Linked DNA regions of Homo sapiens. The protein of the gene in region 7 purifies or fractionates together with the protein of the main gene of each other region. This does not show direct contact. Each region holds a gene or a part of one and is shown on either strand. Other genes may lie near its edges. The genes, in order: EDRF1, NPEPPS, WRAP53, NFXL1, TRAFD1, ALDH3B1 and CDK20.

Evidence for each region.
Region 1: the proteins of CDK20 (region 7) and EDRF1 purify together in Homo sapiens (affinity purification with mass spectrometry; one large-scale study listed by BioGRID and IntAct). This does not show direct contact.
Region 2: the proteins of CDK20 (region 7) and NPEPPS purify together in Homo sapiens (affinity purification with mass spectrometry, with the first as the bait; one study listed by BioGRID). This does not show direct contact.
Region 3: the proteins of CDK20 (region 7) and WRAP53 purify together in Homo sapiens (affinity purification with mass spectrometry; one large-scale study listed by BioGRID and IntAct). This does not show direct contact.
Region 4: the proteins of CDK20 (region 7) and NFXL1 purify together in Homo sapiens (affinity purification with mass spectrometry; one large-scale study listed by BioGRID and IntAct). This does not show direct contact.
Region 5: the proteins of CDK20 (region 7) and TRAFD1 purify together in Homo sapiens (affinity purification with mass spectrometry; one large-scale study listed by BioGRID and IntAct). This does not show direct contact.
Region 6: the proteins of CDK20 (region 7) and ALDH3B1 purify together in Homo sapiens (affinity purification with mass spectrometry; one large-scale study listed by BioGRID and IntAct). This does not show direct contact.

Annotation. Positions count from the first base shown.
Region 1 is NC_000010.11:125,739,843-125,744,242, reverse strand, and holds part of EDRF1 (erythroid differentiation-related factor 1), read right to left. Parts: intron 3,781-4,400; coding exon 3,592-3,780; intron 3,243-3,591; coding exon 3,042-3,242; intron 2,024-3,041; coding exon of another isoform or gene 2,004-2,023; exon of another isoform or gene 1,329-2,003; intron 1,186-1,328; coding exon 967-1,185; intron 1-966. UniProt on the Homo sapiens protein: Transcription factor involved in erythroid differentiation. Involved in transcriptional activation of the globin gene.
Region 2 is NC_000017.11:47,590,108-47,594,507, reverse strand, and holds part of NPEPPS (puromycin-sensitive aminopeptidase), read right to left. Parts: intron 3,792-4,400; coding exon 3,627-3,791; intron 2,605-3,626; exon of another isoform or gene 2,553-2,604; coding exon 2,448-2,552; intron 2,024-2,447; coding exon 1,963-2,023; intron 1-1,962. UniProt on the Homo sapiens protein: Aminopeptidase with broad substrate specificity for several peptides. Involved in proteolytic events essential for cell growth and viability. May act as regulator of neuropeptide activity.
Region 3 is NC_000017.11:7,691,068-7,695,467, reverse strand, and holds part of WRAP53 (telomerase Cajal body protein 1), read right to left. Parts: intron 1-4,400. UniProt on the Homo sapiens protein: RNA chaperone that plays a key role in telomere maintenance and RNA localization to Cajal bodies. Specifically recognizes and binds the Cajal body box (CAB box) present in both small Cajal body RNAs (scaRNAs) and telomerase RNA template component (TERC).
Region 4 is NC_000004.12:47,882,981-47,887,380, forward strand, and holds part of NFXL1 (NF-X1-type zinc finger protein NFXL1), read right to left. Parts: intron 3,020-4,400; coding exon 2,899-3,019; intron 2,678-2,898; coding exon 2,518-2,677; intron 1,458-2,517; coding exon 1,366-1,457; intron 1-1,365.
Region 5 is NC_000012.12:112,131,830-112,136,229, reverse strand, and holds part of TRAFD1 (TRAF-type zinc finger domain-containing protein 1), read right to left. Parts: intron 1,493-4,400; coding exon 1,357-1,492; intron 1,218-1,356; coding exon 1,164-1,217; intron 1-1,163. UniProt on the Homo sapiens protein: Negative feedback regulator that controls excessive innate immune responses. Regulates both Toll-like receptor 4 (TLR4) and DDX58/RIG1-like helicases (RLH) pathways.
Region 6 is NC_000011.10:68,012,974-68,017,373, reverse strand, and holds part of ALDH3B1 (aldehyde dehydrogenase family 3 member B1), read right to left. Parts: intron 2,078-4,400; 5' UTR 2,077-2,077; coding exon 1,915-2,076; intron 1-1,914. UniProt on the Homo sapiens protein: Oxidizes medium and long chain saturated and unsaturated fatty aldehydes generated in the plasma membrane into non-toxic fatty acids. May have a protective role against the cytotoxicity induced by lipid peroxidation.
Region 7 is NC_000009.12:87,965,247-87,968,943, forward strand, and holds the end of CDK20 (cyclin-dependent kinase 20), read right to left. Parts: intron 3,622-3,697; exon of another isoform or gene 3,324-3,621; intron 2,928-3,323; coding exon of another isoform or gene 2,849-2,927; intron 2,427-2,848; exon of another isoform or gene 2,414-2,426; coding exon 2,216-2,413; 3' UTR 1,195-2,215; downstream 1-1,194. UniProt on the Homo sapiens protein: Required for high-level Shh responses in the developing neural tube.

The DNA.
Region 1 (4,400 bases), on a different chromosome or scaffold from region 7:
TGTCTCAAAAAAAAAAAAAAAAAGAAACAACCAAAACCAAAACCAAAGGCCCACAGATGTTCAGCTTACCTGCTCACCTCAGTTCTACCTCAGCCCCTTTCTGTTCTGTCCCTGTGTCCAGGCTTTACATTCTTATCTATTCTCACGGCTTCAACTATTACCTTTATGTGAATGGTTCTCAGTCTGTCTCACTAGCCCTACAGCTCTTAGCACACTTCAAATTGACTACAAATTATACCTTTCACATACATGTTCCATAGTGAACTCAAATTCAACATGGGCCCAAATGGTTTACCATCTCACATCTTACTTACACCATCCCACATCTTACTACGCCATCCCACATCTTACTTACCCACTATCCCACATCTTCCTCACACAGGCCTCTTGCTCCCTCTAAACGTACACTTGCACCCTTTGAGATCCCTGGCTTCTTCCTCACACCGCCTCCTTGGTCTGGAGTGCCCTCCTTTCCTCACATTTGCCGGCTGATGCTCTACACATCCTGCATCACCCTGCTCAACAACACTTTCCCAAAAGCCTTCTAACTTATAACCTCCATAAATGTCTTATTTCCCCAGTCTCCCATTATACTTCGTCGGTACTCATCCACAGCATTTTGAGGCTTTGTGTTCCTATCTAGCTTCCCAACATGAAGAGAGAACCATATTTTAGCCAGTTACATATCCAACATAGAGCCTGGCACATGGCTGGATGTCCCATTTGCTTCTGAATTGATCAGATGGAGTGAGTACAAAAGTAAGAATGAAGAACATTGAAATAATTCATTCCAAGGGAAAATCATGTGTTCCTAATTCTATTTCTTAAGAATAATAAGAGGTTCTCTAATAGAGCACCTCTTTATGATATAAAATCAAGTGCCACAGTTCTTTGCTTGACTCATACAAAATTAGCATAATTTTCTGAGAGAACAAGCAATAGAGAGGAATCTAAAGAGATACTCACCTAGTCTCTCACTCTGTAATGCAGCAGCCTGATTCATGTAAAACACACCAATTTCATTTCTAATGTTACCCATTCTCTTTAATACTTGTACATAGTGTTCTGGATTTTGGCTTTTCAAGTCACTAAACTGCAAGATTTCATTAGCAGCCTCATAACATTTACAACTAACAGAGAGTTGACTTTCTAAGTCTGTAGACAAATCAGTTGCCCATGCAAATCCTGAAAAGAAAAAAGGGATACATCAATGCGAATCATGTGATTCCTTCTTCCTCAGTATCCAAATGAACCTGAGATTCTAAATTCTAAGTAATAAAAAATGCAATATAGTGTAAGTATACCAAGATTCAATCAATACAACAATATTTAAGTTTCATAATAAAGATCTATTTATTTATAAAATTATATTTCTTGGGATATTAATGTTGGATAAAAATATTTTCCTGCCTATGAATATCAAACAATTTCTGTGACCCAGGTTTTCCCAGGTACACTTGTTTATTAGAATGGACCTAAAGTTGTCCACTAATACAAAGTAAAGTTGCTATTTTTAACTAATGGAAATAGTTCTTGAAATAATGTCCCAATATTAACTTTAAGTCACTGAAGAGGCTGCTACAGAAGCCCTCGAAGATTAAAAATGCCATCTAGTGGGGACTAGAGTAAAAAGAATATTTAACTGAAATTGCTATGATGGGAGTAGTAAAAATACACCAAGGACTTTCCTACTACATTAAAACATGATTATTTGAGAAAGACGGAGAGAGGGGAAGAAAGGGCAAAACTATTACAAAATAACACATTTTTCCCTCTCCCCCAGTATACTCCTCTAGCTATGAATTGTCTAAAACTCTGGGAGGCAAACATCAAGTAATATTCAGTATAACAATTTAAGAGCATAATAAAACAACCCCATGAGACATTACAGAAGCACCTTCAGAAGACTCATCTTTTACTTCATTCACTGTGTTAATGGCAGCGTGGTTACACACTGTGCTGAGGTAAGAGGGAGGGATATCGCTGCTGCGGATCAGATTATTCTACTTCCCAGTTTTAAAGCCTGACAATTCCAAACAGAGTGACATATTAAGCAAGACAGGTGGCTATGAACTAACTTTAAAAACAATGATCACTTTATTTCAGCCCCAAGGAATCATTCAGAAGGTTAATTAACCTCCTTCACCAACTGTTATACCTTTCAAAAGGAAACCTATGGCTTTGTTAGCTGACTACAAGTGTTACCTAGAAGAACCTCATGAAAAGAAGAGTGTAAAAAGCTGACACAAGGCTGGGTGCAGTGGCTCGTGCCTGTAATCCCAGCACTTTGGGAGGCCAAGGTGGGAGGATCGCTTGAGTTGAGGAGTTTGAGACCAGTCTGGGGCAACGTGGTGAAACCCTGTCTCTAACAAAAATACAAAAATTAGCTAGGTGTGGTGGCGCATGTACTAGTCCCAGCTACTTGGGAGACTGAGATGGGAGGATCACTTGAACCCAGGAGGTGGAGGTTGCAGTGAGCCAAGACTGCCCCACTGCACTCCAGCCTGTGTGGCAGAGCGAGACTGTGTCTCAAAAAAATAAATAAATAAAATAAAATAAAAAGTTGACACAACTGTCTTCATATCTTACTTTATATTTAGTTCTAGTTATATAAACAGTAATTATAAAATACTTAAAAACCATTTTATACAAATACACAAGATCATGCTTAATCTTAAAATTAGGAAATGAATAAAACAGCAGGCCAGGCGTGGTGGCTCACACCTGTAATCCCAGCACCTTGGGAGGCCAAGGTGGGCTAGCCGGGCATGGTGGCGCATGCCTGTAATTCCAGCTACTTGGGAGGCTGAGGCAGGAGAATTGCTTGAACCCGGGAGGCGGAGGTTTCAGTGAGCCAAGATTGCACCATTGCACTCCAGCTTGGGCAACAAGAGCGAAACTCCGTCTCAAAAAATAAATAAATAAATACAGAGCAAATATCAAAACTCTAATATTTCTACCCCTTTTCTGAATACTCAAATAAGCATGAGCTAGACTGCACAGTCCCACTGTGAACCACGTGGTCCAAGCCTGTGGCACACCTTGGCAACTGGACTCTCTGTGAAGGCTATGCAGGATCTCCTGGTCTTCTTTTGTTTGGTAATGAAACTCTTCAAGGTGTGCTGCTCTATTATTTGCATTCTGGGCCAGCATTAGTTGGATATCACCACAAAGTGTCAAATATTGAGAGAGAAACAACAGCACTTCGGAAAGCATATTGGTGCAGAGGCAGCAATAAGTATCTGTTTAGAAAGGGAGGGAAGAAGAAAAAACACAAATGCAGAAAAAAATTAATGATCATAGGAAATATGAAGAAACTGTGTTACCAGCTGAACGCTTTGTAGCACTGTATCTATTCTGTTTATTTTAGGTCCAACAATACATATTACGGCTTCATGTAGTTCAAAGCAAAGAGATGTTAAACCACTGAGCAGAAACTAAAATAGAAGGTAACACACACAGGATTGGAAACAGTCATTTTAAAATAAAGATTTACTAGAAAAATAGGAGTAAACTTCCACTGTGATTCAGATGCCTTCTCTGTTCTCTCTTCCCAGTGCCTATTAAACATATTCATTTATAGTGGCTTACCATGGCTTTGCAAAGCTAATTTAATGTATCGTAATGCTCTTCCGTATTTCTGAAGACTCATGGCAGCATCGGACAAAACATAATAGGCCTTTGATGACTTGAGAATCAGCTGAAGTTTCATTTTATGTTGCCAAGAGCCAGGGATCATTCCAGATTGACTGGAATAATTGCCCTTCTGAAGGGAGCCCACTGTGACATGGAGAGAAAAAAAAAGACAGCACATTTCATTTGACTGTAAGTCTCATGCACAAAAAATATTTTCTGTTTCTTGATGGAAACACTCTAGACTTAGGTGACAAGACTGGTAAATACTATGCTTTACTGCTTAAATACACTGGAGTGAAATGGCCGTGTTAAAAGACTCTCACTTGGGAGTTCTAAGGCCTTCTGCTTCCCTGACATCGGCAACTCTGTCATTCTCTTCCAGTGTCACTGACATAGCTAACCTCATGAGTGACACCTGTCTCCTTTTTCCAGTCTATGTGTCAACCTGTCAAAGTTTACCTTCCTAAAGCACAGCTTAGATCAGCGTGAAAGCCTGTCCTCAAACATGAAAACGGCTTCTCCCCACTTAGCTAGTTGCATGTTTCTCAGTCTCACTTCCTACTTGTCCATCCTACTACCCATCAGCCAATGTTAAGTTACTGCTTGTCACCTATAAACATGCCTGTTTTTCCTATCTCCCATCTTAGTTTACTGTTTCCTCTACAAGGAATACTCTTTATTTAAAGTCCAGCCCATCGCTACCTTCTTTACTCAACAAATGATCATTTTTCTGCCAAGTACTGTGCCAGGCACTGGAAACTGTG
Region 2 (4,400 bases), on a different chromosome or scaffold from region 7:
ACCCGGGAGGCGGAGGTTGTGGTGAGCCAAGACTGCACCATTGCACTCCAGCCTGGGCAACAAGAGCGAAACTCTGTCTCAAAAAAAAAAAAAAAGAATTGAAAAGAATCAAAAAGTTAAAAAAATTAAAAAGTAAATTTAAAATGTTACAGTAAGCTAAGGTTAATTTATTATTCAAGAAAGAAAAATTATTTTTATAAATTCAGTGTAGCCTAAGTGTAAAGTATTTATAATATCTATAGTAGTGTATAGTAATGTCTTAGGCCTTCATATTCACTCACCACTCACTCAACTAGAACAACCTCTATAAGTTGTCCTATAAGCTGCATTCAGGTGTAGCACCTTATTTTCTTTTGAGACCGCGTTTCGCTGTTGCCCAGGCTGGAGTGCAGTGGCCCAATCACAGCTCACTGCAGCTTTGACCTCCCAGGCTCAAGTGATCCTCCTACCTCAGCCTCCCAAGTAGCTGGGACTACAGGCACATGCCACCACACCCAGCTAATTTTTGTACTTTTTATAGAAGCGAGGTTTTGGCATGGTGCCCAGGCTGGTCTCAAACTCCTGGACTCAAGCAGTCCACCTGCCCCAGCCTCCCAAAGTGCTGGGATTATAGGCATATCAGCCAGCTGGTGGAGCATCTTTAATATCATATTTTTACTGTACCTTTTCTATATTTAGAAATGTTCAGGTATACAAATACCATTGTGTTATAATTGCCTATGGTATTCAGTACAGTAACATGCTGTACAGGTATTTTGTAGCCTAGCAGCAACAGGGTATATACCATGTAGGCTAGGTGTACATAGCCTAGGACATACTGTGTAGGTTTCTGTAAGTACATTCTATGATGTTCACATATTGATGAAATTGCCTGACAACATATTTCTCAGAACATATCCCTGTTGTTAAGCAACACATGACTGTATTCCCTTTATTTTTTATTTTTTTCAGACAGGATCTTGTTCTGTTGCCCAGGCTGGAGTGCAGTGGTGCCATGATTGCTCACTGTAACCTCAAACTCCTGGGCTCAAGTGACCCTTCCCACTTCAGCCTCCTGAGTAGCTGGGACTACAGGCACATACCACCACACCCGGCTAATATTTTTGTATTTTTTGTAGAGGTGGGGTCTCGCTATGTTGCAAGCTGGTCTTGAACTGGGCTCAATCAGTCCGCACATCCTGGCCTCCCAAAGTGCTAGGATTACAGGCGTGAGCCACCACACCCGGCCCAGACTCTTTAAGTTGGCAAAATACTCAGTTATGGAAAGCAGAATGCTGGAGGATGACCAAAGGGATAACGAGTCCTGATTCATGTTGACCCTATGACTTACTGCAGGTTGAGTATCCCTTATCCAAAATGCTTGGGACCAGAAATGTTTTGAATTTCATATTTCTTTTGGATTTTGGAATATTTGCATTATACTTACTAGCTGAGCATCTATAATTGGAATATCCAAAATCTAAAATGTTCCAATGAGCATTTCCTTTGAGCATCATGTTGGCACTCAAAAAGTTTCAGATTTTGGGTGGGAATTGAACAATGAGAACACTTGAACACAGGGCGGGGAACATCACACACCAGGGCCTGTCATGGGGTAGGGGGCTGGGGGAGGGATAGCATTAGGAGAAATACCTAATGTAAATGACGAGTTAATGGGTGCAGCAAACCAACATGGCCCGCACATGTATACTGACGTAACAAACCTGCACATTGTGCACATGCACCCTAGAACTTTAATTAAAAAAAAGAAAGAAAGGAAAGAAAAAGTTTCAGATTCTGGAGCATTTCAAATTTCAGATTTTGAGATTAGAGATATTCAACCTGAACACAGCTTCAAATAAGGCTAATTTATTTATTACATGGATCCTGACCTTAAGTATTCAGAACAAAAATAAAATGTCCCAGCCTGGATAGAGTGACAATACTTTCTCTCCATTTCTATCTCAAGCTATTAGAGATTACCTGTGGCAGCATTCTTTTGTTGGAACTTGGTTAAATACATGTTCATTCCTTTCTTAAAGTCCTGAGAAAACACAATTTTTAAAATCCAGGGAAGTCAGATCTCAGAATTTATAGTATATTTGTATATCAGTAATCAAAAACAAATTTACTCAAATACTCAAGTATCAGATACACTGAAACACATATATCCTTCTGATGCCTACTGCCTTTTATTTAATAATGCGTACTCTATGCCTTCTATTCTTGCTCTTAAGTTTTGTAACAGCCTCCCATTTCCACTCCCAAACACACCTGCACATCACTCATCTAAGAGACCAGAGTAGTCAACTTCAAATAATTGAATTCTCATTCTTTTTGGTCATTAAAAAAAAATGACAAGCCAGAAACTATTTGGGAACTTAATCCAAATAAAGTGAGACTTTTTTTCATGCAAAACTCTTATGATTTCACCATAAAAGAATGAAATATTTAAAGTTTTTTTTTACCTTATCCCCAATGTAGTCATGCAGCATTCGGATGACAGATGCACCTTTGCTATATGATATAGCATCAAATATCTCATCAACCTCAGATGGATGGCCCACACTGACCTGGCAGACAGTGTGATTCAGGGTTATGACAGGAAGCAGATAGCCTGTAATACTGAATTACATAAAACGCTTTCTAGGAAAACCCTTCTAACTTACATTTTTCTGCCTTTAACTCACTCATAATGTATAACGATGGTCCTCAAAAAAATGTAGTAACTAATAATAATAAAGTTGAATAGAACATGATTCCTGTCATCCCTTAGAGCCTGGGTTCCAGTCCTGGCTTTGTTCTGCTGGGAAAGAAGCCACTATGGTTCTGTTTATTTTTGGGGTAGTTGCAGAGGAGTGATGAGGAAGATATGGAGGTGAAGAACATTAGATTTCTTGCACTAATTGTAATGAATTACAATTATATGGGAGCCTAATTAAATATGTTGAAGTAGCATTATAACTCTAGTTCTTTAGATACAAAATTTATATATATAAACTGAAGTAGGGATAGGCTAAGTCAAGAGAATTAAAGTATTCACAAAACAGACCCTGACAATAAAATATGTCCAGAATTTTCCTTGACATAAACAATGGAACCATAGTGTTACCCAATAGGTATGACTTCTCCCATACTATTCTTTTTCTTTTTTTTTGGCAGAGTTTTTTGCTCTTGTTGCCCAGGCTGGAGTGCAATGGCACGATCTCGGCTCACCGCAACCTCTGCCTCCCAGGTTCAAGTGATTCTCCTGCCTCAGCCTCCCGAGTAGCTGGGATTACAGGCATGCGCCACCGTGCCCAGCTAATTTTGTATTTTTAGTAAAGACGGGGTTTCTCCATATTGGTCAGGCTGGTCTCAAACTCCCGACCTCAGGTGATCCACCTGCCTCAGCCTCCCAAAATGCTAGGATTACAGGCATAAGCCACTGCGCCTGGCCAGACCAATTTTTTTTTACTGCCTACCTTAAAAAGAAATGTTAATTAGAACTTAGACTTACTAGCTTTTCAAGACTAGAAATATGAACCAGTAAAATCACCCATGCTATTTTCTCTTATTTTCAAAGTCCAAAGTATCTATGTAACAAATTACGTATTTCATTGTAAATGAGAGCAGTCATAGGCTAATGGTTAGAAAGTATGGCTCACTTCAATAGGATGGCTGTTATCTAAGGCGTCAAGCTCCTGGGCACGGGTGTAATCAGCAGAAACAAACTGAGTCCAAATATCATACTCTGGGAAGCAGTGGTCTACACACAGATATTCAATCCAGGATGCAAAACCTTCATTTAACCAAAGATGAGTCCACCATTCCTAAAAACAAAAGATGAAAATACTTAAAGAAAATGAAATGATTGTCATTCTACTAATCTAAAACACTCACATGTCCCTTCCACTATATTCCCAAACTCACAATTTAATGACCTAAAATTCAGTTCAAAACATTTGGCAAAGAACTCACATTTCTGAAAAAGAGAGAAGACTAAAAGAGATGTCAAGAAAGGCCAACTGGTGATATGAGAATTATATCTGAGGGTCATTTTCTTTTCCTTTCTTTTCTTTTTTTTTTTTTTGAGACAAAGTCTTGTTTTGTCACCAGGCTGGAGTGTTCACCAGTAGCTGGGATTACAGACATGTATCACTATGCCTGCCTAATTTTTGTATTTTTAGTAGAGAGGGGGTTTTGCCATGTTGGCCAGGCTGGTCTGGAACTTCTGAACTCAAGTGATCCACCTGCCTCGGCCTCCCAAAGTGCTAAGATTACAGGTGTGAGCCACCATGCCTGGGCTAAAGGATATTTTCAAAACATTGTAAATAACTTCTCCCGCAAACCCAGACAGGGTCTCATTCTGTTGCCCAGGCTGGAGTGGCAGGGGCACCATCGTAGCTTACTGCAGCCTTGAACTCCTGGGCTCAAGCAAT
Region 3 (4,400 bases), on a different chromosome or scaffold from region 7:
TTCCTGCAAGACCCACGGGGCAGGGCAAGTACTCAGGAAAGACGCTGGGGAGCTGGAAATGAGACTTGCAGAAAGTTCTGTGAAAAGGTGGAAAAGAAAGGAGAAAACCCGAGAAACTATATTGGGAAGAAGACTCAGTACACACAAGTATATGGAAATACCCAAATACACCCTTCCCCAATTTTCTGACCTATACAAATTTTATCTATTTAAGGCCGGGTGCAGTGGCTCACGCCTGTAATCCCAGCACTTTGAGAGGCCAAGGCGGGCGGATCACGAGGTCAGGAGATCGAGACCATCCTGGCTAACATGGTGAAACCCCGACTGTACTAAAAATACAAAAAATTAGCCTGGCGTGGTGGCAGTGGGTGCGTGTAGTCCCAGCTACTCGAGAGGCTGAGGCAGGAGAATGGCGTGAACCCGGGAGGCGGAGCTTGCAGTGAGCTGAGATCGCGCCACTGCACTCCAGCCTGGGGGACACAGCAAGACTCCATCTCAAAAAAAAAAAGTTATCTATTTCAAATGCTAAGCTTGTAGACACTAAAAATGAAAATACCTAATGAGAGAGGTTGCGATAGAACTGGTACACTAGCAGGAAAAAAAAAAAAAAAAGCACAAAAAGGTTTTGGTTGTTTGTTTTGAGACAGAGTCTCACTCTGTCGCCCAGGCTAGAGTACAATGGTGCAATCAAAGGTCATGGCAGCCTCAACCTCGCAGGCTCAAGCGATCCTCCCACCTCAGCCTCCCAAGTAGCTGGGACCATAGGCCCAACTTTTTTGATAGAGACAGGATCTGGCTGTGTTACCAAGGCTGGTCTCAAACTCCTGGGCTCAAGCATTCCTCCCACCTTGGTCTCCCAAAGTGCTGGGATTATAGGCATGAGCCACCACACCAGCCACAAAAATCTTTTGAAAACAAACTGACTGGCCAGGAGCAGTGGCTCACGCCTGTAATCCCAGCACTTTAGGAGGCGGAAATGGGTGGATCACTTGAGGTCGGGAGTTTGAGACCAGCCTGGCCAACTTGGCGAAACCCCATCTCTACTAAAAATACAAAAATTAGCCGGGTGCGGTGGTGCGTGCCTGTAATCCCAGCTACTCAGGAAGCTGAGGCAGGAGAATCGCTTGAACCGGGAAACAGAGGTTGCAGTGAGGCAAGATCACACCACTGCTCTCCAGCCTGGGCCACAGAGCGAGACTCTGTCTCAAAAAAAAAAAAAAAAAAAGAAAGAAAAAAAGAAAACAAATTGACTATCTGTATTGCAAGATATATTTTTTAAAATGTTTTAATATTATAATCATTAATATCATAATCACGACCATGCCTGGCTAACTTTGTATCTTTTTTAGTAGAGACGGGGTTTCACCATATTGGCCAGGCTGGTCTCGAACTCCTGACCTTAGGTGATCCACCCGCCTCGGCCTCCCAAAGTGTCGGGATTACAGGCGTGAGCCACCAGGCCTGACCCTGCTCTGCTATTTCTACCATGACAATTTATTCAGCTTCATCAAAAACTTATTTACAGTCCAGTTCCTTACCCACTGTAGATTCTAGTCCACCATGGCATGCACACTCTTGAAGACACTCTCAGGATACCCTTGTCTTTCTCTCCTGGTAAACCTCAACCATACCATCCTCCTATTCTTGGCTTGCACACAACTGATACCAGTGACTACTAGTGTTTACCGAACACTTACTATATGCTAGGTGCTGTTTTAAGTACTTTTTTTTAATTTTATTATTTTTTTTTGAGACTAAGTCTTGCTCTCTTGCCCAGGCTGGAGTGCAGTGGTGCGATCAGCTCACTGCAACCTTCGCCTCCTGGATTCAAGCAATTCTCCTGCCTCAAACCTCCCAAGTAGCTGGGATTACAGGCGCCCGCCACTAAGCCCGGCTAATTTTTGTATTTTTAGTAAAGACAGGGTTTCACTATGTTGGCCAGGTCGGTCTTGAATTCCTGACCTCAGGCGATCCACCTGCCTCGGCCCCCCAAAGTGCTGGGATTATAGGCGTGAGCCACCGCACCCGGCCTTAAGTGCTTTAATTCATTACTGATTATTTTAATTCTCACAACTCTGTGAGGCAGGTGCTATTATAATCATCCCCATTTTACAAACAGAGAAACTATAGTCATTTAACTTGCCAGGAAAGATGCACAGTCACACTAACTGGTCTCATTTCAAATTAATGGCAACAGACCTCTAGCGGGTACCGAGCAAAGAGCAACACAACTGCCACATGCCTTGGTGGGTCTGATTTTTTGAAACTCCGTCTCAAAAAAAAGAAAAAAAAGAAAGAGTGCTGATGGAGGAGGAGAAGGCCCAGCAGAGCCCTGAGTGCCTGAGTGCTCCAGCGCAGGGAGGTGGAGACAGTGACTCATGCTGCTAAGAGATGCAGTGAGGCGAATTTAGAGAATGACCCAAGAGGGGCTGGGCGCGGTGGCTCATGCTTGTAATCCCAGCACTTTGGGAGGCCGAGGCAGGAGGATCACGAGGTCAGGAGATCGAGACCATGGTGAAACCCCGTCTCTACTAAAAATACAAAAAATTAGCCAGGCGTGGTGGCGGGCGCCTGTAGTCCCAGCTACTCGGGAGAGGCTGAGGCAGGAGAATGGCGTGATCCCGGGAGGCAGAGCTTGCAGTGAGCTGAGATGGCGCCACTGCACTCCAGCTGGGTGACAGAGCGAGACTCTGTCTCAAAAAAAAAAAAAAAAAAAAAAAAGGAGAATGACCCAAGAGGACATTAGTGACCTTGACAAGAGCACTTTCAGGAAGCGATGGAGGCAGAACCTGATTAGGATGGGTGGGAGAAAACTATAGCCAATCTTTTTTTTTTTTTTTTTTTTTTGAGACGGAGTCTTACACTGTTGCCTGGACTGGAGTGCAGTGGTGCAATCCTGGCTCACTGCAACCTCCATCTCCTTGGTTCAAGTAATTCTCCTGCCTCAGACTCCAGAGTAGCTGGGATTACAGGCGCCCGCCACCACGCCCAGCTAATTTTTTGTATTTTTAATAGAGATGGGGTTTCATCATGTTGGCCAGGCTGGTCTCGAACTCCTGACCTCAGGTGATCCACCTGCCTCAGCCTCCCAAAGTGCTGGGATTACAGGAGTCAGCCACCGCACCCAGCCCCAACTAATTTTTGTATTTGAGTAGAGACAGGGTTTTACCATGTTGGCCAGGCTGGTCTAAAACTCTTCACCTCAGGTGATCCACCCATCTCAGCCTCCCAAAGTGTTGGGATTACAGGCGTGAGCCACCGTGCCTGGCCCTGGATTTCACTCTTGCCCACCCATAAACCATTCACTCTTCTGTTTTAAAACTCTCTTGGCCGGGCGCAGTGGCTCATGCCTGTAATCCCAGCACTTTGGGAGGCCAAGGTGGGCAGATCACAAGGTCAGGAGTTCGAGACCAGCCTGGCCAATATGATGAACCCCCCATCTCTACTAAAAAAATACAAAAAAATTAGCCGGGTGTGGTGGCACATGCCTGTAATCCCAGCTACTCGGAAGGTTGAGGCAGGAGAATCACTTAAACCTGGGAGGCGGAGGTTGCGGTGAGCTGAGATGGTGCCACTGCACTCCAGCCTGGACAACAGAGCAAGACTCTGTCTCAAACAAACAAACAAAAAAAACCTCTCTCATGGCCTGGCATGGTGGCTCACGCCTGTAATCCTAGCACTTTGGAAGGCTGAGGCAGGTGGATCACCTGAGGTCAGGAGTTTGAGACCAGCCAGGCCAACGTGGCAAAACCTGTCTCTACTAAAAATACAAAAATTAAGCCAGGCGCGGTGGCTCATGCCTATAATCCCAGCACTTTGGGAGGCCGAGACCGGCGGATCAAATGTCAGGAGTACGAGACCATCCTGGCCAATATGGTAAAACCCCGTCTCTATTTAAAAAAATACAAAAATTAGCTGGGCATGGTGGCGGGTGCCTGTAATCCCAGCTACTCGGGAGGCTGAGGCAGGAGAATCGCTTGAATCCAGGAGGCAGAGGTTGCAGTGAGCCGAGATCACGCCATTGCACTCCAGCCTGGGCGACAGAGCAAGACTCGTCTCAAAAAAAAAAAAAAAACACCTCTCTCATGACTTCCCAAATAAACTCCAAATGCCTTACCCATAAGAACCAACACGACGTGGCTGCTCTTCTCTGTCCTCACCCCTCTGTCCCCCTCACTTGCCTCAGTCTGGCTATACCAGCATTCTGGGTTTTTTGTTTTGTGTTTGTTTGTTTGTTTGTTTGTTTGTTTGTTTGTTTTGGGATGGAGTCTCACTCTGTCACCCAGGCTGGAGTGCAGTGACATGATCTTGGCTCACTGCAACCTCCATCTCCTGGGTTCAAATGATTCTTCTGCTTCAGCCTCTCAAGTAGCTGGGATTACAGGCACCCACCATCACAC
Region 4 (4,400 bases), on a different chromosome or scaffold from region 7:
CTAGTCTTGTTCCTGTTATTAGGGAGAAAACTTTTAATCTTTCACCACGATGTATTAGTGAACTGTGTGGGCTTTTCACAGATGCCCTTTATCAGGTTAAGAAAATTATCTTTTCTTCCACGTTTTTTGAGTGTTTTTATCAAGAAAGTGTGTCAGATTCTGTCAAATGCTGTGCTACATCTTGAACCTGGAAAGAGAAGGTTGCAGTGAGCCGACATTGAACCACTGCACTCTAGCCTGGGTGACGGAGACTCCGTCTCAAAGAAAAAAAAACAAAAAAAAACAGACTAAGGAACTCAATGGTAATTAGGTACTTATGACCTAATTACTCAGGTAATTATGACAACATTTTCGTGCCTATGAATTATAATATCAATGTCTCTTCTGTTTCTCTCAAGGAAAAATTTTAGGCCACTAATAATTCTAACTTAGAGATATTAGCAACAACTTGGTTCCTCATGATTATAACTTAAGTCCTCAGTAAAAGAATAGTCTCAAATAACTGAATACCTACATGAAAAACCTCTCTGCTAACTACACAGCCCACCTCCATTAAATCTACAGACTAAAATTACCCTATTTGTGCATATATCTCCTAACAACACTTTGCCTCCCAACTTGACTGTGTGACCAATACACAAAAATATACATGCTATTTCAACTGGGAGGAATGTTGTGGAAATGAAAGCTTTTAGAATTAAAAAACAAAAACAATCCTCTCTTTAAAAGACCAATACACCAGAAATACCAATGTTTAATTTGGCACCTCAGTTGTAGACAACAGCCCCTTTTCTAACTTTATGTTGCTTCTCAGCATTCTGTGCTTTTTCCCCTATACTCCATAACCTCTGCTGGAAGTATAAAAAATTCCAGGATTCCGTATTACTGTAGGTTCAGCTCCTTAGAGCTCAGTCCCAGTCATTCACTGGCCCATCCAGGAAACTACTTCCTCTCATTTCCAAGGCTTCCTTTAAATATTCCCCAAGTTTGCCTTATCTAAAACCTGGCTTTCTTCTGTCTTCAGGGAGCTTACAATCCAGTATGGGAATCATCGGGAAAAGTAACAAATGATGTTCCTTGGATTTGTTTTTGTAATTGCATGCACTCGCTATGGAAAGCTAAGAAGGGCATCAAACTCCAACTGGGGGTAAAGACTCAAAAAAAGATATCTATAGTAGGTTTATATGCAAGTATGACAAACATGTTTGAAAAGAATGAAGGTTAAGACAGACACACTAGTTGATAGGCTAGGCCTGAAATAATAATGAACTGAACTAAGAAAAAAGGGAGATTGACTTCAGATACCCTTTAAGCTATGTCAAAAGTTTTTTGTTTTTTTTTTTTAATTGAAATTCTAATACTTACATAGGAATAGGAACTTGACATGGAGGACACGGTAATGCAGTCTGAATAAATGCTGGCTCAGAAGGCTGTTCCCAAGGGCCTGTAGGCTGGTGCTACAAATAAAATACATAAGAATTTTAAGTCAGAGGGATTAAATCATATGGCCATTTTAAGAATCTAAGAAAATAGTTCCATGTATCCTCTGCTCAAGCAGGTTGAAATTTTTTCAAATAATCAATAAATTGTGCTTACTGAAATATTTCATTTTATCTGTATTAAATGAAATTGTTCCTCTCCACAGACATTTGATATTAATAACTGAGACAGAATCCAGTTTATAAATGGTAGAACAAAGGCAGTGTAGCCTCCTTTACTTCCAATAAGGAAATGAGAAAAACAATTGGAAACTCCAACATCTAGCAATTGAATATAATCTCCATCATTTTACTCACTGTTGTTCCTCAGCACCTAAAAAAAAGCTTGATATTTAGTAAGGGCTCAATAAATGTTCATGAGGCTGGGCTGGACGTGGTGCCTCACACCTGTAATCCCAGCACTTTGGGAGGCGGAGGCGGGCAGATCACTTGAGGTCAGGAGTTCGAGACCAGCCTGATCAACAAGCTGAAACCCCATCTCTACTAAAACTACAAAAATTAGCTGGGCATGGTAGCAGGCACCTATAATCCCAGCTACTCAGGAGGCTAAGGCACGAGAGTCACTGAACCCGGGAGGTGGAGGTTGCAGTGACCCAGATCACACCACTGCACTCCAGCCTGGGCAACAGAGTGAGACTCCGTCTCAAAAAAAAAAAAAATTAAATAACTAAAAATAAATAAATATTAAATAAAATATTAAAAAGTGAATAAATCTTTAAAATAAGATTATAGGAGATATCTATAACCCTAAACCACAATATATGAAGGAGGACTGCCAAATTCACCTGTATCATGATCATAATGTAACTATCACACTGTATTTGCAAACAATGGTTTCACTCCTTTCCTACACTGTGAGTTGCTTAAAACAAAATCAAGTCTTGATTACCTTGTACCCTGCTCCAAGCACAGTGCTTCCCAATAAGTGCTTAATCATTGCTCATTGAAAAACTAAGTAAAAGCAAGAAAGTACAACCCACAGCAATGCACTATTTCTCTAATAGTATTATTCCCTTACCCTGCCAGTCTGCTTTATTAATGCTTGATCATGACACGGAGCAGGACACAAGTGACCACATTTCTCCAAAACTTTTTGGCAAGGTTGATGACATGGTGGACAAGAACCAAAGTGACAGCGATGTTTTTCTTGACTTGTATGATGACAAGTTGGTGGTCGACTAAATCATAAAGTACAATTTTCAAAAATTACTTTTAGTCATTGAATAATTACATCTAAAGGACAATTATCTATTTACATATCTTCTGATTCCATATAGAATGAGTATACTGTGAATATTAATATTTTAAAACACTAAAGCAAAATTAAATTATTAAAAGCCAATATGAATTTAAATTTGTACAACATCAGATGGAAGCTTGTGCAAAGCTTCAAACTCACCTGCATTGCTCCTTGCACTTGGGTGGTCTTGTGGTACGTTCTCGGCCACAGGGCACTGTCACCTTTGTATTGCCACAATTACACTTCACATCTACGGTTTCTGGGCAGGGATAGCAACTGCCTGAAAAAAAAGTCTGACAATTAAAAAGTTTCCTTAACTACCCAAATGCCTATTAATGGTAAAATACATAAATTTAGTATATTCACACAATGGGATACTCTACAACAAGAATGAAGAAACTACAACAACATGAATGAATCTTACCACAAAACATTGAGCCAGACACAAGGAGTACATAGTGCATGATTCCATTTATATAAAGTAAACAAGAAAAAATGTACTGTTCAAAATCAGAGTGATAGCTATGAAGGATGCAAGGAAGGTGTTGAAAATTTTGGTCATGTTCTGTTTAATGATGTAAGTTTTGGTTACCTGGCTATGTTCAGTTTGTAAAAATTCAACAAGCTGTATACTTTTTATTTGTAATACTTTTCTCTTTTTTTTTTTGTAACAGGGTCTCAACCTGTTGCTCAAGCTGAGTGCTGTTGCATGATCACAGCTCAGTGCAGCCTCAACTTTCTGGGCTCAAGCAATCCTCCCACGTCAGCCTTCCAAGTAGCTGGGACTACAGACACACACCACCATGCCCAGCTAATTTTTGATTATTTATAGAGATGGAGGGGTCTCACTATGTCATCCAGGCTGGTCTCAAACTCCTGGACTCAAGCAATCTTCCCACCTCAGCTTCCCAAATGCTGGGTGTACAGGCGTGAGCCACTGCACCCAGCCTCTGATTTATAACACTTTTTTCTCTGTACACTGGTACCTCATAAAGTTTTAGACATTTCTCTAAAATGTGCTAAAACTTCTGTTCTAAATAACAAATTTAACACATTACTCATTCAAAACTAAAACAAGCAAAAATGGATTTAAGTCTTTGGAAAATTTAACATTAACAATAATATCGTTGGCCTACTTTCATACATCTATCCAAGTACACAATTTTTAGATGAATTCCCAATAACTTCTTTCTCATGACCTGATATTGGTTAGTAGCAAGCACAGTCAATTTTCCATTAATTGTGCTTTGTGAAAGACTAAGTACTAAGCCACCATTTTAGGATATAATCCCAAATATTTCTCTTCTAAACATAAAAAAAAATGTTATTTTGGTTTCAGCTTTTTACGCTCTTTTGTTATGGGTTGGCAAAAATATAAAAAAACAAAATCAAAGAAATCTTTAAAGCAGGCTATAAAGTTCGCTCCAAGAGGTTCTGTCATCATCTTAAGGGCTTTCTTCCACTCTAGTTTTCCCAGTAAGGAACTCTATCAGAAATGAAATAATAAAGGAAGAAGAGTTTTCAATGAAGAAATGAATATCTTAAAGAGACTGTTGCCTAGGTGTCAGGACCAAGCAAAACATGGACCGGGAGTTAACCTGATAAAAAAAAGATTAAAGATGGACAATATCCTGGCTTAAGTGCCTCTAGAAGTTCAAAAT
Region 5 (4,400 bases), on a different chromosome or scaffold from region 7:
CTGAGGCAGGAGGACCACTTGAGCCCAGGAGTTCAAGACCAACCTGTGCAACACAGCAATAGAGACAACACCTGTCTCTATTTTTTGGGTTTTTTTTTTTTGAGATGTAGTCTCACCCTGTCATCCAGGCTGGAGTGCAGTGGCGCGATCTCGGCTCACTGCAACCTCTGCCTTCCGGATTCAAGCGATTCTCGTGCCTCAGCCTCCCAAGTAGCACACACCTCCACGCCCAGCTAATTGTTGTATTTTTAACAGAGACAGGGTTTCACCATGTTGGCCAGGCTGGTCTCAAACTCTGACCTCAAGTGATCTGCCCACCTCTGCCTCTCAAAGTGCTGGGATTACAGGCATGAGCCACCATGCCCAGCCGACCCTGTCTGTATTTAAAAAAAAAAAAAAAAAAACCTTTGGCCAGTTTTATCTCAACTAGCGAGCAAATGATACTCTATTCTCTCTCACCAAATGCTGAGGAATTTCTTAGGTTAAATAGCATGTTATCCAGGTGTTCAAGATTTTAAAATGAAGCCAGATGTGGTGGCTCACGCCTGTAATCCCAGCACTTTGGGAGGCTGAAGACAGGCAGATCACAAGGTCAGGCCAACATGGTGAAATCCCGTCTCTACTAATAATTAGCTGGGAGTGGTGGTGGGCGCCTATAATCCCAGCTACTCAGGAGGCCGAGGCAGGAGAATTGCTTGAACCTGGGAGGCAGAGGTTGCAGTAAGCCGAGATCACACCACTGCACTCCAGCCTGGGCAACAGAACAAGACTCCGTCTCAAAAAACAAACAAACAAAAAAGAATTTTAAATGAAATGACAGCTTGTAAGGCAGGCTGTGTGCTAAAGAGGTTATCCCATACTGGCAACTCTAGGGCTGGCTTCATATTCAGTGAGGCTGCCAATAACCAAACCCCAACAGAAATAATAGACTCAGTTCCAAAGGGAGATACTTCGCGAGTCTCAACATACACAAGTGAGTTCCAACAGCCAGGTAGCCGAATCTGGCAGCAGTTACATAGTCAAGGCCTCAAACAGGCTTTGAGAAACAGTATGCATGTGAGCTCACGGAGAACTAACACTCAACCAGACTGGCTTCCTGCTCTGCATGTGGGTCTGTAATCTCAGCAGGACTGGGCCCACGGTAACTCACTCCATGGACTAACCTCATGCTTCTTTAACAGCCTCTTCTCCAACTTCTTGTTACATTTGCAGGTCACCTAGAGTAAGAAGTGAGAATCAGTAAATTGGCTTTGGGACAATATGCTCATTTGCTATTGCACAATAGCAAACAGAATACATTTACGAACAACAGCAAGTATAACACATGTATAAACATTTGAGTACTTGGTGGCTCACCTGACAGTGTTCTGCAGCCATGTGAGTCTCCATGTCAGATTTGGGAAATGGTTCCTTACAGGTAGGACACATACCAATGTTCCTTTGACAGTGGATCTCATGGATGGTAAAGTTAAACACAGGAATTTCTTTTTTGCTACGGAAATAGACCAAAGAAAAAGGCAAGCATTACTGACTAATCTATGCCTTTTCTTGCACAGTGGCATCACATGGAAATCTGTCCTGTCCAATCTTTAGTCTCCATTATTTATCTTTAGTGAATACCTAGCCTACAAACTCATGACTATTACCATTCCTGCTTTTCAAGAACTAAATCCTGGCCAGGCGCGGTGGCTCATGCCTGTAATCTCAGCACTTTGGGAAGCCGAGGCAGGCGGATCACCTGAGGTCAGGCGTTCGAGACCAACCTGGCCAACATGGTGAAACCCCATCTCTACTAAAAATATAAAAATTAGCCAGGCGTGATGGCGGGCACCTGTAATCCCAGCTACTCGGGAGGCTGAGGCAGGAGAATCGCTTGAACCCAGGAGGCAGAGGTTGCTATAAAAAAAAAAAAAAAAAACTGGCCGGGCGCCGTGGCTCACGCCTGTAATCCCAGCACTTTGAGAGGCTGAGGCGGGCAGATCACCTGAGGTCAGGAGTTCGAGATCAGCCTGGCCAACATGGTGAAACCCCGTCTCTACTAAAAATACAAAATTAGCCAGGTGTGGCGGCACATGCCTGTAATCTCAGCTACTCAGGAGGCTGAGGCAGGAGAATCGCTTGAACCCGGGAGGCGGAAGATGCAGTGAGCCTAGATCGTGCCATTGCACTCCAGCCTGGGCAACAAGAGCAAAACTCTGTCTCAAAAAAAAAAAAAAAAAAAAAAAAAATTAAATCCTTTCCAGGTGCAGTAACGCCAGCACATTGGGAGGCTGAGGCAAGCAGATCACTTGAAGTTAGGAGTTCAAGACCAGCCTAGCCAACATGGTGAAACCCCGCTTCTACCAAAAATATAAAAAATTAACCAGGTGTGGTGGCGGGTACCTGTAATCCCAATTACTCGGGAGGCTGAGGCAGGAGAATCACTTGAACCCGGGAGGCAGAGGTTGCAGAAAGCTGAGATCATGCCACTGCACTCCAGCCTCGGGGATAGCAAGATTCCGTATCAAAAAAAAAAAAAAAAAGAACTAAATCCTGAAGGCTCTTCTGTGCAACATTCTGAGTTACCGGTGCTATGCACTACTACATCTAAAAGCTCAGCCTTACTTTCTCAAAGTCAGAGCTGATCACAACATGAAGTCAGATGCCAAAAAGAGTGGAGCTAGGCTATTCCAAAACCATCCATGTCCCAAAGCAGAGTGATACGCTCCAGGATTATTTTAAAACAGAAAACAAACCAAAACAACAACAAAAACAAGTGAAAAAACACCCTACCACTGATTTTCTCTCACTTTTAAGTAGTTTAATTTCATTGGATTTTATTCCATGAAAAGTCAAACCAAAAAGAGAAGACTCCAGCTTTTGGACAGTCAAAGGGGAAGGGGAAATTGTCTCCTGTATGCCTCACATGCCTTTCGAAGCAGGCTGGATGCTTCCTGACTACAGGAACATGCTCTCTGGCTGGGTTGGTAGAAACTTCACTGTAAAGCTGTACAAAAATGAAATCCTGAACCCTTTCCTCCACCAGTCTGGTCTCTCCACTTCATTTTTGCCTTTCTCACTTAGTTTAGTGGTTCAAAGATCATATCTAAGCTATACAAATTAAGGAGGTAAAGTGATAATGTTACATGAAAGAGTAAGACCATTTAAACATGAAAAGATTATACATGTACTCGAACTAAAGGTACATTCTATTCAAAGGCCTTACTTTTACTTATTTGGATAGGACCATTGTAAAATTCCAATTTCACCAGCTAAAAACTACATTAAAGAAGGTACGTATAACAATAATTCAGAAAAATAAAATACTGAACAGGATCAATACAGATAGTCATAAAACACATTATTTAATACCATATTTTGCCTCTGAAGCTGAATACTAGAAGAACTGTCTCCCATACTAAATTATAAATAGCTTATTTCTCTTTTAATAACCTTTAATATTCAGACATTGTCTAAGAAACATTTTGAAGTAGGATAAATGATGTGCCTCCAGCTATAGTCATTCTTCCAAACTGAAAGACCAAGACACCAAGGAAGTGCAAATTCATTTTCATCCAGTGGTGGAATTATCAAGCTAGGGACCCCAAGGCAGCTCTCAAAGCAGCACTGGAAGGTGACAGAACAATCAACTGTGAGAGATGGGAAGAAAACTCAAATGGATAAAGAGGAAAATTACTGACAGATTTAACTTCCCATATTTCTCTCAAATTTTTAGCTTTCTAAGGAAACTACTCATTTTGAATTAATTTAGTTAAAATAATACATCCCAACTTTTTAAAGATGTTGTGAAATGAATACTTTAATACATTACTGGTGGTAGTATAAACTGCCTAAAAACAGTCTGAAAATTCATTTCTAGGACCATAAAATTATATACTCTGTAACACAATAATCCTACTCTTGGGATTATGTATGAATATTTTCATTACAGTATCATAGAATGGTAAAAAATGAAAGTCATTAAAAATACCTAAGCAAGAAAGGAATAGCTAAGTTACATATAGTATACCAACAAAGTGAAAGAAGAAATGTTATATTGTGATTGTAAATCATGTATGTACAAATGCCATGAAAATTAAAGCCAGTAATTACTGCTTAGGGTGTAGAAAACCTGGGTTCCTTTTTCATAATATTGGCAATAATTTTTATTTTAATGGTAAATATGGAGACACTAAATGTCTAGCATTTACTTTACAAGGCTGTTCAGGATAACTTGTTGACATACTACATACACAAGGCCCCTAAAACTTTAGAATTAAAACAAAAAATATTAAGGACCACACCATCATAATATGAAGCAACAAGAATCAAAAGCAGCTGTCAAGTAAGACCACAAAGCATTTACTATTGCACATATTCACCTCTTAGGAAATGCTGAAATAAAAAAGATATTTGCAACA
Region 6 (4,400 bases), on a different chromosome or scaffold from region 7:
TCAGCGAACCAGGGGCAAGGCCAGGGCTACAGCTGAGCCCCAAGAGGGAGGAAGACGCCACGCCCACTGGCACCTCCTAGCCACTGAGGCTGGGGGAAGGTGCCTTCCACACGGACTTTCCCACAGCCTGTGCTCTGGCCCCATGAGCCTGGTGGCCTGCCCGCCACACCTCCTAGGTCACCTGGGACCTGACTTTGGGAGACTGGGCTATTTTGAGCCAGGTTCAAACTCTGGCTCTGCTCTTCCTGGCTGCATGCCCTTGGGCAAGAACACACTCTCTCTGAGCCTCTTCTGGGGGCCACTGGGTGTGGTTGCCCAACCAGATTCACCAAAGGGTTAACTGAGAGGGTGCACGTGACGCTGGGCAGATGCTGCCTGCTGAGGGTGGGGACAGGGGGGTGACCAGGTCCAGAGGGAGGGACCAGGTTGAATGTTCTGGGCTACTGCTGCCTTTGTAGGGCCCCGCTCCTGCAGCTGGGATGGGAAGGCAGGAGGTGGAATCAGAGCCGAAGGGAGAAAAGGGACCAGACAGACGTCAGGTCAAGTCTCATGAAGGCCGGCAGGCGGCCGGTGGCAGAAGCTCAGTGGTGGCGGGGGAGTCAGTCCCCAGGGAGCCCAATGGGCTGGGGGAAGGTCTGAACACTACAGCCTTCAAGGCAAAGGGAGGAGATATTTTGTCCAGAGAATAGGAGCCGGGGGCAGCCCCTGGGGCAGATGTGCTGAGGCAGGGGCAGGTGGTGTCCTGAGGCAGGGGCAGGTGTCCTGAGGCAGGGGCAGGCAGGTGCATGGGCCCTGATGGGTGAGGGGTTGGGGGAAGTGTGTTTCTTGGGGTTCTGCCTTGGCTGCCACTGGGATTGGGAGGGGCTGAGGCCCCAAGCCTTCAGGGTCTAGACAGAGGCCATGATGCCTGCTGTACCCAGAGAGAAGGCCAAGGCCTCACGGCCTCCGAGGCCCTACATAGTGTGGCCCATACCCCAGACCTCATCTTTGCTGTTTCTTCCTCTCCCACCCCCGACAGCTATGCTGGCCTCCTTGCTGCTCCTCAAGCAGAAACACCCAGCACCTCCTGCCTCAGGGCCTTTGCACGTGCTGTGCCCGCTGCCATCTCCCCAGCATCCATGGGGAGCCTCCCCTCCATCTTCACGTCTCTGCTCTAAAGCCCCCTTCTCAGAGAAACCTTCCCTGACCCCCACATATACAACAGCACCCTGATCCTGGCCCCCTCTCTCCCCTTCACCCTGGGTGTGTCTCCAGGGCACATATTTCAACCCAATATGCTGTGTAATTATTATCTTTATTATTATTTTTGAGATGGAGTCTCACTGTGTTGCCCAAGCTGGAGTGCAGTGGTGTGACCTTGGCTCACTGCAACCTCCACCTCCCAGGTTCAAGCGATTCTCATGCCTCAGCCTCCTGAGTAGCTGGGATTACAGGTGCCCACCACCACATCCAGCTAATTTTTGTATTGTTAGTAGAGACGGGGTTTCGCCATGTTGGCCAGGATGGTCTTGAACTCCTGGCCTCAAGCGATCCGCCCACCTCGGCCTCCCAAAGTGCTGGGACTACAGGTGTGAGCCACCATGCCCGGCCTTGCTGTGCAATTATTTATTTGCTGTTTTATTGTCTCCGATAGAAGGTCATCTTCGTAGGCATGGGAACTGTGTTTTATTCTCTGCTATATCCCCAGAGCCTAGAACAGTACCTGGCACATAGTAGGTGCTCAGCAAATAGTTGCTGCATGAATACAGAAATAAGTGACTGGATGAATGTGCAAGGGTGGCTCTGGCCTAGGGGAGGAGCTGCTTTTAGCCCCGCTTCATGGAGGGCGCAGGTGTCTTCATCCCCTGCTGTCCCAGCTGCCCTCCATGCCCCCCTGCCCCAGTGCACCCTCTCATACCCCCAACCCCAGCCCACCTTGTGCAGGTCCTGGGCCAGTGCGTCGTGCAGAAGCTGCTTGTTTTCTTGCAGGAAGCGGCCCAGGCCTTGGAGCTGCGCAGCCCGGAACTCAGCTGGCCGCGTGCGCCCCGCGTGGAAGGCCTCCCGCAGTCGCCGCAGCGTGTCCCCAAGGGGGTCCATCCTGCCAGATGGGGTGGCATGAACTGGGTGGCCAGGGCTGCCCCTCCTTCATGGGCACCACCCAGCCGCCCCAGGGTCTGGGCACCCCTGACCTGCCTGCACCCACAGGGGCTTGCAGACACCTCTACCTTATACACACACAGGGACCCACTCAGATGACCCCACAGGGACTGAGGCTGCCTGCAACCCCTTTCACCCAACAGTGAGCACTCCCAGACACACATGAAGACCCTCGCACCACTCCCCTCTGCCATGGACCTGGAGGCGGCTGCAGGACTGGGTGTGGGCTTGGGGACAGCTGCTCCACCACAGCCCCCGAGGGTGAGCAGGCAGGCAGAGCGCCATGCTTCTTCCTGCCGCACAGAAATTAACCCCAAGCCATGGCCTCTGCCCTGCCCTGATGCCCCTCCTGGAGGCGGGGCAGCCTCACCCCTGCCAGTCTGAATGGTGTAAGCAGGAGCTTGATGAGTAGAGGGGGTGACTCACTGCCACCATGGCCACCACCTTGGAGCACTCCAGACACAGAATTCTCCGTCTTCCTCTGTCCCCAGCCTGGGGGCACTGCCCAGGGAGGCCAGGCCAGTGGGCAATAGCCTCTTCTCCCTGTGCCTCAGCTTCCTCAGGAAGAGGGGGAGAACACCTCGGGCCTCCTGGAGGCCCTGCTGCCCACCCTGCCGGGGCTGTGGTGCTGGGAGGCAGAAACAGCTGTGGGGGAGAGGATCAGGGCGGGGGAGAGGGCGTTCCTGCCTCCGTGCTGGTGCCAGCCAGAGCTGGCAGGCAGGGTAGGGGCCTAGACATTCCCCCGAGCCCTGCCTGTTTACTTGAAGTTCATCGGAGGAGCACTCTGACGCACTCGTTCCTCGGCCTGGTGCCAAGGACCCGTGGTGACCCTTTCCTCCTTCCCTCTCCGAGTCCCTTTCCTCCAGATCTCAGCTTGGCTGATGCTTCCTCCAGGCAGCCCACCCAGATTATGCCCTCATCCACTGTCACAGTGGCCCCTTGACTCTGCTCCCCAGCGTTCTGAGTTGTGCCATGTGATAAATGTCTGGTTACACTCTACCCACCTCCCAACCCTGTCCACATCTCCCTTATTTCCCCCTCATTAGACTGGGAGGCAGGCCCCTCTGTGCCTACTTATTTGAGACCTAGTGCTTGAAGCCTCTCATGTTACCGGTGTAATGATGGCACCTGCCAGCTAATGATGAGACCACACAGTCGGTTCTGAGCCCAGGGCCCAGCATCGGTGAGCGCAAGGCTGTGGGTGATTGTTAAGTGGCCACCTTGAGGGCGGGACCTGCTCCGGTCTGCAGGATGGCCCTGCTGGACCAGTGTGCTACTGAGAGCCTGGTCAGGAGCCCCAGGCCAGCCCTCAGCTGGAGTGATTGTGGGGCCAGGCTGAACCCACCATCTTCCTGCTCTGATTGGGAGAAGCTGGGCAGTGGCCCGCACACAGGACAGGCACCATGGTCCCCATAGGGGATGGCTCGTCACGGGAGCAGGACTGAGACCCAGGAGCCAAGAACGAGCCTCTCGAGCCACCATCAGGCCTGTCTCCGGGCTCTGCCTCTTACTGGTTGTGGGACCTTGGGCAAATCACTCACCTTCTCTGCCTCGGTTTCCTCATCTGTGAAATGGGGATGCTAATGGCACCTGGTGTCATTGTGAGGATTAAATGACATCACGCTGCATAAAACATTTGCTGTTGTGCCCACAGAAAGTACTCGACAAAGGTCAGCTCTGGGTGTTTTGCTAAGTAGCCTGCAAATATTTATCTCCCTCAACTCCGCACTCTCCTGGGTCCTTCTCCATTCTACTCTCACCTTCAGACTTCTGCCAGTGGTCAAAGGCAAACCACGCCTGTGCCTCTCTCACCCTTTGTAAGAATCTCTGCAGAAACCACAAAAATGCAAGGCACGTAACGTGAATGGTGGACTGTGGGCCGGGAGCTCTGTGGGGGATGGAGTTCTGCAGGGAACATTCCAGCAACCCTCCTAGCAACGCTGAAACCAACTCACCAGGGCCACAGGACACATCTCTCCCACAGGGCAACCAGCCCTGGCATTGCCCCTACGGGTCACTCACTCTGGACTGAGGCCCCCAGGGAGTGCCCAGGGCAGGACCCTGGCAAGCGGAGAAGCCAAGGCCGCCTTCTGCCTGAGATTGGGGGGATCCTGGGCCTGTTATCTCCCGAGGGTGCTGGGCAGCCATTGTGGACACACAGAATAGGGAACTCCTGAATCAGGCACTGGGCTGGGGTCCCCCAAGCCCACCCCCGCGGCACTCATCCCACAGTGTGAGGTTGTAAGGAGTGTGATCCCCATGCC
Region 7 (3,697 bases):
TTTCGCATGTATAAAGTTACTTCTAATATCCTTAGTCTTTTGAATCCTATTCATTTCTAATATTGATAATATTTGAGATTAGGTACGTACAAATTTGAAAAATTTTACCAATGAACTGAATATAATTAGAACTGAATGTGTTTATCACTAGTAATGATTTTTGCCTTGAAATTGTATCTTATATTAAATAACAGCTCTTTGCCTTAAAATCTATTTTCTTTTTTTTTTTTTTTTTTTGAGACAAGTCTGTCACCAAGGCTGGAGTGCAGTGGCACGATCTCGGCTCACTGCAACCTCTGTCTCCCAGGTTTAAGCGATTCTCCTGCCTCAGTCTCCCAAGTAGCTGGGATTACAGGCATGCACCATCACACCCGGCTAATTTTTGTATTTTTATTAGAGATGGGATTTCACCATGGTGGCCAGGGTGGTCTCGAACTCCCAACCTCGGGTGATCTGCCCACTTTGGCCTCCCAAAGTGTTGGGATTACAGGCATGAGCCACTGCACCCGGCCTCTGTTATTTGATATCAAATAACTACACCAGATTTTTGGTTTGTGTATGCACGATAAATCATTTTTTCTCCTTTTACTTGCAAATGTTATATACATTTTAGAGTTCTCTTTGAAGTTCTCTTAGAAGCTTACAGTCTGCAGAAGATGTGGCTGGAGAAATAAACAGAGGCCATATCATGAAAACATCAGACTTTCCTGAAAGCCAAGAACGAGGGTTGAGTATGTTTTCTCTCTCCACTAAGTGCTTGAAGGCCAGCATCTGTAGCAGTGTTAGTCACCCTGAGTGCTCACAGAAGAGTTTATCCACATGAAGCATAAAATAAACATTTTAAAAATAAAGGGAGCCTGGGGCTGGGCATGGTGGCTCACGCCTACAATCCCAGCACTTTGAGAGGCCCGGGCAGGCAGATCACGAGGTCAGGAGATCAAGACCATCCTGGCTAACATGGTGAAACCCTGTCTTGAGTAAAAATACAAAAATTAGCCAGGTGTGGTGGCACGCGCCTGTAGTCCCAGCTACTCGGGAAGCTGAGGCAGGAGAATCACTTGAACCCAGGAGGCGGAGGTTGCAGTAAGCCGAGATTGTGCCACTGCACTCCAGCCTGGGCAACAGAGCAAGACTCCATCAAAAAATAAATAAAATAAAAATAAAGGATGGCTAAGAATAAGTTTCTCTAGTCTGTTTTTATCCTTGAACCACAATCATACTCTTTATTATTATACAAACTTTTAAATATTGGTATCTGATACCGTAAGTCCTTCCATCATTTCCTCTTCTGCATCTGGTTCCACTTCCTTCCATGTATCTTTTATAATCACCTTATCAAATTATAATAAGGAAAAAGCACTAGCTGGGATTATATTGGGATTTATTAAATTTATAAATTAATTCCAGGAACGCTTGTTTCCTTAAATACACAGCTGCTTCTGGCTCACGCTCATCCTGAGGGAGTAGATGTTGGTAAACCAGCCTCATGTGCAGAGGGTCTCCTGCTGGATCCCCAACTGGAGCCATCCCTGGGCCTAGACTTCTGTCTCCCTCACTTCTAAATGAGTGCTCAGTGATGTGAAGTACACAGGAGTCCCTCAGGGCAAAAGTGGCTATGCCTGGTGCTACCCTCCCCATGACCCCAAAAACGAGAGCCATGAGACAATGCCACCTTAGCCATTTCCCTTGAGAGAAATGAAGGAGGAACAGACATAAGGCAGAGCCACCTGAGGTTTTTAGAATCTATATCTCACATACTGAACTAGTGTTTAATGGCTCTGAGAATAAAACCAAACCAAATCTTCCTTCCACTTGAGTTTCCAACATAAGGACACCTTACTCTCTGCACTTCTCCTTGACCAGGAGGCAGCACTCGGGGAAGCAGCACCAAGGCAGGCATCGTCATTCTGCATATGCAGGCCTTGACTGGCAGCAGAGCTCACTGTCCTGATGGGTACGTCAGTAGCACACAGAAGGTAAGGCTCACCGAGCACAGGCCATGAATCTCCTCTGCTCGACTGGATGTTCTCATACTCTTGGCTGGGAACATGACCTCTGCCTCGAGACCAACCCTCGCAAGGGCTAAGGGGCAGGGTGTGGTGTGGGCCCACTGTGGCCATGGGGAGGCCTTGGAGGGTGAAGCCAGGCAGGTGGCAGAGGAACAGGTGGACTGAGTGGTCCTGAGGAGCAGGCAGACGGGACCAGGGCCAACTTCTCACCCCTCCAGGATGAAGGGCCGAATCAGCTCTGGGTTCAACAGCGACTCCTCAAGAGGCCGGTCCACGTGGAAGTCATGGATGTGGGGGGGCCCTGGATGGGCCTTGGGGGCAGGTCCCCCTAGACGCTGAGGAATCGGCAGCTCAGATGGATGGGCAGGCAGGGGAGCTGTGAAGAAGTACTGATGGAGGAGAGCCTGAGGGTGGCAAGTAAGGAACAGCAGAAGGAAACTAGTCACCTCCCTGTCCCCAGCCTCAAGCAGATGTTCCTTCATCTATGCATTCAGCTGACTCAGTGTGTCTGGGTGTTTTCTGAGTGTCTACTATGTCTGAAGCACTATTCCAGAAGCTGGGAACATAGCCGTTAATAAAACAGACAAAAGCTCTGTTTTTCTGACATAAGTGAGGGTGGGGGGTAATAAACAAGATGAAGTAAAATACACAGTATGTCAGATAATGATTAGTGCAGTGGAAGAGAGAAAGCAAGACAGAGGAATGAGGAATCCTGGAGAGAGGTTGCAGATCTGAAGAGTCATGAGGGAAGGCCATCTGAGAAGTGACATTTAAGCCAAGACTTGAGACATAAGCAAGTGGGACATGAGGCTCCAGGCCAGGGACAAAAGTGTACTGACCCCTGGGGCTGGAGAGGAGTGAGCACAGGGCACAACAGCAGGCAGCGTCATGAGGTGATGGCACCCAAGCATACGACATCTGTGGGTCACAAAAAGGACCCTGGCTTTTCCTCTGAGATGGAGCCACAGGAGGGCCCTGGCAGAGAAGGAATGTGTCCTGTTCTACTTGGATAAAGTTACTCTGTCTGCCAGGTGGAGAAGAGATTAAATGGGATGAGGGGAGACCCAGATTCTGGGAGGCAACCCAAGAGATAAGGGTCACACGGCTTGGGTACACTGTGGACACAGAGCCCACAGGAGCTGCTGACAGTGGAGACCAAGAGGGCGTATGTAAACACACGCGGCTGGTGCTGAGTGCAGGGAGGGGACAGGGACCCCTGAGAGACACCCTGACACCTGTCAGCCCATGCTCCTGTGGTCATCGTCCTCCCAGGCCTACCAGCCATAACCAGCCTTCCTGGGTCCTCTCTTCCAGGCCTCTGCCCACCATTTCTCTCTTCAGCGAACACCTCCTCAAACATCTCATGCTTAAACCTGCCCTCCACCAGGAAGCTTTGCTTGACCCCAAAGTCGGCCTTGCCTCTCTCCTGGGGCTCCCACAGCTGGAGAACATGACCTCTTGTGACCTTTTGGACCTGGAGCTACCTCACCACCAGGAGTGCCCCGCGGAGGTAGGACTGATTGTTTACCATCTGTGCAGGGCCCAGGACAATCCCTGCATGTGCCAGATGTGCAGAAAATACTTGCTAATGGAATAAAGGAATGAGTCCCCAGTGACTCTCTTACTGTATCTGCCACAGGGTCAGGGGCAGCCCAGAAACCTGCACTCCCGGACACGCGCTCTCCTGA